2 linked regions of the Homo sapiens genome follow. The protein of the gene in region 2 purifies or fractionates together with the protein of the main gene of each other region. This does not show direct contact. Each region holds a gene or a part of one and is shown on either strand. Other genes may lie near its edges.

Region 1 (4,476 bases), on a different chromosome or scaffold from region 2:
GGAGTTGGTAACGATGAGAAGGGAATAGATGCCATGTGACAGGGATGGCATTTGAAAGATTTCCAGAAAGCCAGAATTTCTACTGTGAGTCCCTTGTAGAGATTTCATCCCCATCACACCACCTTTATAATAAGCTTGAAGAGGACCAGTCCCCCAAAAGAAGGGTGGTACCCTCTTTTCTCAACAATGACCCAATTTTTCTTCTGACCTTACTAACATAAACATTTACTCTATAAAATATAAGGTGTTGAGGTCGGGTGAGTGGAGGGGGCCCTAAATGTTGATTAGGCAATTGGGGAGGAAAAGGAGGTTTTTGCTATAACTGCCATTCTTTAAATCTACAATTCCATGCTCTTTAAAAGCCTTATAATTTTCTGGATCTGGGAGCTGGGCTATTTCAGGGTCAATGGATTTATTTCAGTTGGTGCCTGAACTGACTTGAAACAAGTGTGTGTGGAAAAGAGCTATTTTGAGAAGGAATAAACCGAGACTGCCCTGATGATAGAATATGCAAGCTGGTGGGTCTTGACTCCTTAAAGGATTATGAAATTAATTTGATTGGTCCCAATCTTTATATAACCACCCCAATCAGGAAACTTCCCATCCCGCCAAAAGGCCCCCTCACGTGCTCTCCCTGTCAGTACCCCATGCAAAGGTAAAATAGATGATATTTTTAAACATGGGTCGTGTTTAAAAGAAATGGAAACTCCTTCAGAGAATGAAGGAGAACCACACTGGGTAGAAGGTTATTCCTGGGGCTCCACCCCTTGCTCCATCAAGTCCTCTGAGCATGAGCTGGGCTCTGAGAAGGAAGAGACAGGAACCAATTGGTCATGTCCACGTGGCCTCAGAAGCTGAGTACGTGACGGTCACCAGATGCCTAGGCAGGCTCCCTTGAAATGGCAGGGCTGCTGTCCAAAATCCTGCTGGGTCATTGCTATTTACAGGCAGCCTTCCCGGCGTGCGGTGGATATCCCAAGCGGGGCTATTTTTAAGCAGGGCTATGGCCTGCCGTGGGTTAAGCTGGTGTGGACAGAAAGCGAGATGATCTAGCCATCTACTGCAGGGGGCCTGATCTTGAACAGAAACCTGACTGTAATTGTCCCTGGATCCAGGTCCCAGACAAAGACGCTGGAAGGAGGTCCCTCCAGCCCCTGGCTCAGGGCCCGGTCAGCTGCTGGAGCCAGGCAGCTTGAGACATCCTCCTCTCCGACCTTGGCTTGAGGGGTTCATCCTCCAGAGCTCACCAGGGCCCCAAGGCTGGTACACCTGAGAGAAGAGAGAAACAAATCCCCCAACAGATGTGCAATTTCACCTGCTGGCCCTTCCATTCTGAGATCCAGAGCCCTGGCAAAGGAGCCTCCAGGACCAGGCCTGGGAAGCAAGACTGGCTCCGCCTTTTACGTTTCAGAGAAAGGGCAGGTGCTATAAAGGGCCCAGCGCCCACGGGCCTGCCTTCAAGGGTACAGCTGTGGGGGCCGGTGCGCCCGGAGGTCTACGCTGGGATTGGTGAGGTCCTCTGGCCCCGCCCCGCCAGGGAGGATTTCCAGGCCGGCCCGACCAGCTCGCCCTGCATACACTTCTTGGCTGTGTGCGCTCAGCAGGACGTGGGAGGCTCCGGCTTCAAGGTCGGTGAGTCCGTGAAACTCTGCTTTATTCCTCCAAAGAGGGGTCATGGCTAGAGCCAGTGTGAAGGGCCTTGGAGGAGTGGATGCCGGGCTGTAGACGGGGACCCCGTTAGGACGCTGACTGCGAGGAGGCAATGGTGACTCGCTAAAGCCAGCAGAGCTCCCGCCCTTGGCCGAAGCGACCCCTCCTCCCTGCACACAGGTGGGGGCAGCTCAGCACCAGGAGCAGAACAAATCAGCACGCTGCCTGCAGGGCCTCTTTTTGGTAGTGAATCAGGAATTTTTCTCGATGGAAAAAAAAATCTAAAGGCTGTATTTTGACGCTAAGTTTGGGACAACTTTAAACTTAAAGTGTCTTTCCCTTGTAATTCACAGAGTCTAATCCACTCATTTCTGGGAATGTTTTTCCCCAGCAGTCTCAGTCTCAAAAGACATGTAAATCAGTGACTTGGGATGAACTAACTAGAAAATTAAAATTTTGAGAAGCTATTTGCTCATAAGCCCAATAGCCAGGCCCAGTTTAAACGGGCAAATAGTATTGCTAGAGATTCAGTTTTGCCGTCACTAATACTAACACATTGATAATGAGACAAGTAACCGTCTCCCCTCCCCACCATCCTTACCTTTCCCACCGGAGGTTAATTAAAAAAAAAAAAAAAAAAAAAAAAACCTATGGAATTGGCCCCACGTGTTTCACCTGGGCAGAGGCCTGTTCTTCACTAGCTTGCTTGCTTGGTTGGTTGTCCCGGGGTTAAAATCAGTCCTGTTCTTGCCCCTAGAGTGGTCTGCCTTCAAATGCTCTCCTCCGAATGTGAGGAAGAGTGACATTTGACAAACAGACCAAAACCTTTAGGTCTCCTCAGTGCTGCCCTTTAGACCTTCCAGAAAGTGTTGCCAGGCTCGTGACCCCTCACAGTGTCAGCTGAGTCAAGTGAGGGGCAGTTAGTGGCCCTCAGGACAAGGTTACGCTAGGTACACCAGTGTGCTGTTTCCAGAAGGGCTGCTTTTCCTGTCTACGGCTCTCACATTTTCTCTGTTCTGAACTCGTGTCCTTGGTCTGTTCTCTCTGTCCTCTCATAGAGGCGAGCATGGCCACAGCATGTGGCCAGAGACTTCCTGACAGGCAGGCTCTTCCGGGAGGCTCTTGGCCTTGTTTGGCGGTCTGAGCACTTCACTTCCTCTGCATTGATAGGCACCTTTTCCAAAGACCCCAGACTTTGGAGTTAATCACGCCTGTGGGTTAAGGCACTGTCACAGCAAAGCACAGGAGTGCCACATGCACCCCATGGACTCTGCCAGCCTCATGACCAAATCATATCATTAGGAAATGGGCCATAGGCAGGTCAGTTTTCCTAAGGAAACTGTGGGTTGGGTCGGGGGGAGTACCATACAGAATGGGGAGTCCTGGGGTTTCAGACACAGGAGGGAGACTGACTTTGCCCCTAGCTCAGAGGCCCTGGGCCTCCATCTCTGCCATAGCCTACAGCAGGCTCCATTTGTCTTCCCAAAGGAAGCCACGTAGAGTCTGTGTCAAGCATTCTGGGAGCTCCTGCCCACAGAGCCAGGAATCCAGCAGCAACCCATGCTGAAGGTGACTGCTGGAGGTCACACTAACCCTTGCCAGGAAGCCTCAGAGACTCCCTCCCTTGGGCGGGGAAGAAGGCAGCCCACTTCACAGCACTTCAAAGGACTAGATGGCTCCTAGCTTCCTGTTTTCTTGAAAACAATTTACCCTTGAGGGACAAAGTCTGGTAACGGTCCCATGCCTTCATCACAGGAGGCCTAGGAAAGGCCTCTGTTTTACAGAGTAGGATTCTAAATATCTCCTTCCTGCCTAGGACTGTCTATTTGCTGAGTAGAACAGTAATGCCAAGAGTGCCCATTAAGGTTGGCTGCGTACTAAGTGGTTTTGAGGTAACGCACACCCTTTGCTATCTTAGAACTGGGAGGAGACAGGCATTTTCTGCGGCCTAGGAGCCTGGCATCGTGAGAATTTGTTCAGAGTGTTCTGTGGAGCTGGTCCAAGCCCAAGGACATCCTCTGTTTTGGGGTGGCTCTCTGGATGGAAAGCTGACACGTGGTCCTCCTCCTGCCCTTCCACCTGCCCTCTGGCTGAGGAGTTCAGACACATGGACGCTGTGAATGGCTGGACCAGAAATAAATCTGAGTCAGCAGAAAGGCAGACATGGTCCATCCGGGATGCCCAGGAAGAGCAGGGGGCTCGGGCTGGAGGCAGTGACAGAACCCAAGGCCTCCTCTTCACATTCTAGGATGTCACAGAACCAGAGAAGAGCATTAAGACCAGGATCTGAACTCCCAGTATACCTGCCTGGGACCAAGAAATGTACAGCTTGTGGCCACTTAACAAAAGGGCTTGATGTAGCTGTCGTTGTTTTTTTAATGCGGAGGGCAGTGTAGGAACAAACAGGATATTATTGCTTTTGGCTCTGTCTGGCTGTGCTCTTGCACCTCCCCATCGCTCCAAATCTCCCTGGCTTGGAGCCCAGGTATTCTGCCAATTTTAGCCTAGATGCTGTAAGCAGTGTTTTTCAATTCAGGAGTCATTGTGGTGTTCCAGGTTAGGGAAACTGAGGCAGAAAGCTTCTATGGGGTGAGAGCTGGAGACCACCTTCCTCTTCACACTGGCACAGCATCCCTAGCAAGGCCTGGCAGGCACATTGAGCACTAGAGTCAGAGTGGAGCGGGCAGAGATATCCCTGGCGTCTGGGTTACTTCAGCGGGAGCCTGAGGACAGGGAAAGAGAACAAGTTTATAATCTGCAACTTTAGAAGTCATATGCCCTGAGGTGACAATCCTGTGCCTAGGAGCTGCTGTGTTAAATGCACTT
Region 2 (3,812 bases):
GAAAAGGAGACACACATTTCAGCAACATTAGAAATATTTGTTTGGTTAATTAAATAACAACATGATTAATAGGACTTGGACAGTAATTGAGTCAAAAGGCCAGAAAAAAGCCTGTAAAATGAGATGTTATGAATGACAAGTGTGACAACCAAAGTACAGTGGGAAGGGGAGGTGAGGCGTGGTGTCCAGAAATTTACAGGGAAGAAAATAAACATCTACTTTCATTCTCAAGTATCTACATTATTATCATTATTATTATTAGAGACAGGGTCTCCGTCACCCAGGCTGGAGTGCAATGGCACGATTATGGCTCACTGCAGCCTCGGCTTCCCAGATTCAAGTGATTCTTCCACCTCAGCCTCCCGAGTAAGTGGGACTACAGGCGTGTGCCACCATGCCTGGCATACATTTTTGTAGAGATGGGGTTTTGCCATGTTGCCCATGCTGGTCTCAAACTCTTGGGCTCAAGTGATCCTCCTGCCTTGGCCTCCCTCTACATATTATTAATATATGAAGCTTAATACTAGATGGTAAATAGAATCTCAGAAACATCACTGAGATTTTATGGGCTGGAACTGATCATTTAAATGAAGAGCTAAAGTACACAATGAAGGGAGCCCCAGACAAATGCGTATTAAAGTAGGTGCTTGTATTTTTGAAGATTAACCCAAAAAATGAAGTACAGAGGAGAGCATTTAGGATAAAGAAAGTACAGCTGGGGATGGTGGCTCACACCTGTAATCCCAGCACTTTCGGAGGCCCAGGCGGGGCAGATCACCTGAGGTCAGGAGTTCAAGACCAGCCTGGCCAACATGGTGAAACCCCATTTCTACTAAAAAATACAAAATGTAGCCAGGCGTGGTGGTAGACACCTGTAATCCCAGCTACTTGGGAGGCTGAGGCAGGGGAATCTCTTGAACCTGGGAGGCAGAGGTTGCAGTGAGCTGAGATCATGCCACTGCACTCCAGCCTGAGTGACAGAGCAAGACTCTGTCTCAAAAAAAAAAAAAAAAGGAAAGAAAAGAAAAAGAAAGAAAGTGGCAAAGGCAAGGGCTAAGGTAGGAGTGTAGTCCACCATGGTGCTGTATATTTGGATGATGACTCATTTAATAAGGATTATGGCACAGAAGCAAGTTATAGTAGTGAAAATCTTCAATTATTCAGCTATCACCAGGGAGTCTCTTCTAAAAGCTGGATATTTACTTACTGGATATCTACTATTTACTTATTTATTTATATGTTTATATTTATATACTTGCTGAAAAATATTGTCCCTCAGAAGGCAGAAGCAGCAGTGAGATGTATTACTATTTTGTACTTAATTCTCATCAGTATGGAGGAACTAGTTGGGACTGTGGACATGAGGACCACACTTTGTAATTCTTTTTTTTTTTTTTTTTTTTTTGAGACGGAGTCTCACTCTGTCACCAGGCTGGAGTGCAGTGGCATGATCTCAGCTCACTGCTACCTCTGCCTCCCGGGTTCAAGCGATTCTCCTACCTCAGCCTTCCGAGCAGCTGGGACTGCAGGTGTGTGCCACCAAGCCCAGCTAATTTTTGTATTTTCAGTAGAGACGGGGTTTCACCATGTTGGCCAGGATGGTCTCGATCTCTTGACCTTGTGATCTGCCCGCCTCAGCCTCCCAAAGTGTTGGGATTACAGGCGTGAGCCACTGCACCCGGCCCACACTTTGTAATTCTTAAATGTGGCACAAAAAAATTCTACATAAATTGTGACACATTTTTTAGGAAAACCAGTTTTGAAAAAAATCGGAAAGATCAAATAGGATACCACATAAATGATATGATAGGAGAATCTAAAATATAAAAATTTGATTCCACAATTAAAGACAATCTCACTGAACAGTAAAACAAAAAATCTGGTTTCCTAAAATGGCTGACAGCATCTCCTTCTACTTAAGAAAATTAAAAATGCTGGATTATGCTGGCGCAGTGGCACACACCTGTAATCCCAGCGCTTTGGGAGGCTGAGGTAGGAGGATCGCTTGAGCCCAGGAGTTTGAGAACAGCCTGGGCAACATGGCAAAACCCCATCTCTATAAAAAATACAGAAATTAGCCGGGTCTGGTGACTCGCTTGAGCCTGGGAGGCAGAATTTGCAGGGAGCCGTAATCATGCCACTGCGCTTCAGCCTGGGTGTTGGAGCAAGACCCTGTCTCAAAAAAAGAAAAAAAAAAAAAAAAGCTAGATTAAAACTTTTGAAAAGATTACCATAAAAGTACTGAAAAGACAGTAGGCATTTATTAATTCAAACTACATTTTATGGGAAAGTCTGAATGCAGAAATGAGAGGTGTAGGAGATGAAAAAGGAAAGTAAAAAAACTCCCTAACAGGCTATGGCCACCTCCAGTCCCTGGGAGAATTCATAACCTATGTAGCCGGAGTCTGCTGACCAGTTTCACATCGTCACTGGGTAGCAATGCCTCCAGGGAACCTGGAGCAAACACACACAAATGTTGTCTGAAAGAAAATACTTGTTTTTCACCCTTGATGCTCGCTCACAAATACTTTTTTAAAAGTAGTATTAACCTGCACACAGCTGAAGAATTCAGGTACCCCAGAAAACAAAGTTCCATAAAGGAAGACTGGTAGAAACAACTGAGAGCCTAAACAGAACCATAGATCCTAATATTGGAACTGTCATCAGAGTGAAATTGGACCTGTATCTTACACCATACACAAAAAGTCAACTCAAAATGGATTAAAGATTTTTAAGACCAGAAACTGTAAAGCTCCTAGAAGGAAACATAAGGGAAAAAGCATCATGACATTGGGATAGGTGATGATTTCTTGGATATGACACCAAAAGCATAAGAAACAAAAGCAAAAATAGGTTGTTGGTACTACATCAAGCTAAAAAGCCTCTGCACAGAAAAGGAAACACTCAACAGAGTTAAAAGGCAACTTATGGAATAGAAGAAAATATTTGCAAACCGTATATCTCACAAGGGGTTAATATCCAAGATATAATTAAAAGGAACTTCTACAACTCAATAGCAAAGAAGCAAAAACAAACAAAACAAAACAAAACAAAAAACCCCAAAGAAAAACCTAACCTGATTAAAAAGTTGACAAAGGACTTGAGTAGACATTTCTCCAAAGAAGACATACAAATGGCCAATAGGTATATAAATATCAATATCACTATTCATCTGGGAAATGCAAATCAAAACTACAATGAAATAACACCTCACACCCATTAGGATGACTATTATCAAAAAACTGAAAGGTAACAATTATTGGTGAGGATGTAGAGAAATTAGAACTCTTGTACACTGTTGGTGAAAATGTAAAATGGTGCAGCTACTGTGGAAAACAGTATGGAGGTTCCTAAAAAAATTAAAGATATATTAGAACATGTTGGTCAAGAAAAACAATTAAAAATAGAACTACCATATGATCCAGCAATCCTACTTCAGGGTATATATCCAAAGGAAATAAAATCACTATCTTGAGGAAATATTTGCACTTCCATGTTCACTGTAGCATTATTCACAATAGCTAAGATATGGAAACAACCTAAATGTTCACTGACAGATGAGCAGGTAAAGAAAATGTGGTACATAGACAATGTAATATTATTCAGCCTCAAAAAAGAAGGAAATTCTGCAGTACACAACATGGATGAACCTGGAGAACATTATACTAAGTGAAATAATTCAGTCACAGAGTAATACCACAATGAAAAATTGGAATTATTAGTCAAAAGTTAAAATAACTATGATTGTTTTGATTAAAGAAATAAGCTTGAGGCTGGGCATGGTGGCTCATGCCTATAATCTCAGCACTTTG

Evidence for each region.
Region 1: the proteins of AKR1D1 (region 2) and CKMT2 purify together in Homo sapiens (affinity purification with mass spectrometry; one large-scale study listed by BioGRID and IntAct). This does not show direct contact.

What each region holds. Positions count from the first base shown.
Region 1 is NC_000005.10:81,231,750-81,236,225, forward strand, and holds the start of CKMT2 (creatine kinase S-type, mitochondrial precursor), read left to right. Parts: upstream 1-1,572; 5' UTR 1,573-1,628; exon of another isoform or gene 1,629-1,632; intron 1,633-4,476. UniProt on the Homo sapiens protein: Reversibly catalyzes the transfer of phosphate between ATP and various phosphogens (e.g. creatine phosphate).
Region 2 is NC_000007.14:138,082,648-138,086,459, reverse strand, and holds part of AKR1D1 (aldo-keto reductase family 1 member D1), read right to left. Parts: intron 1-3,812.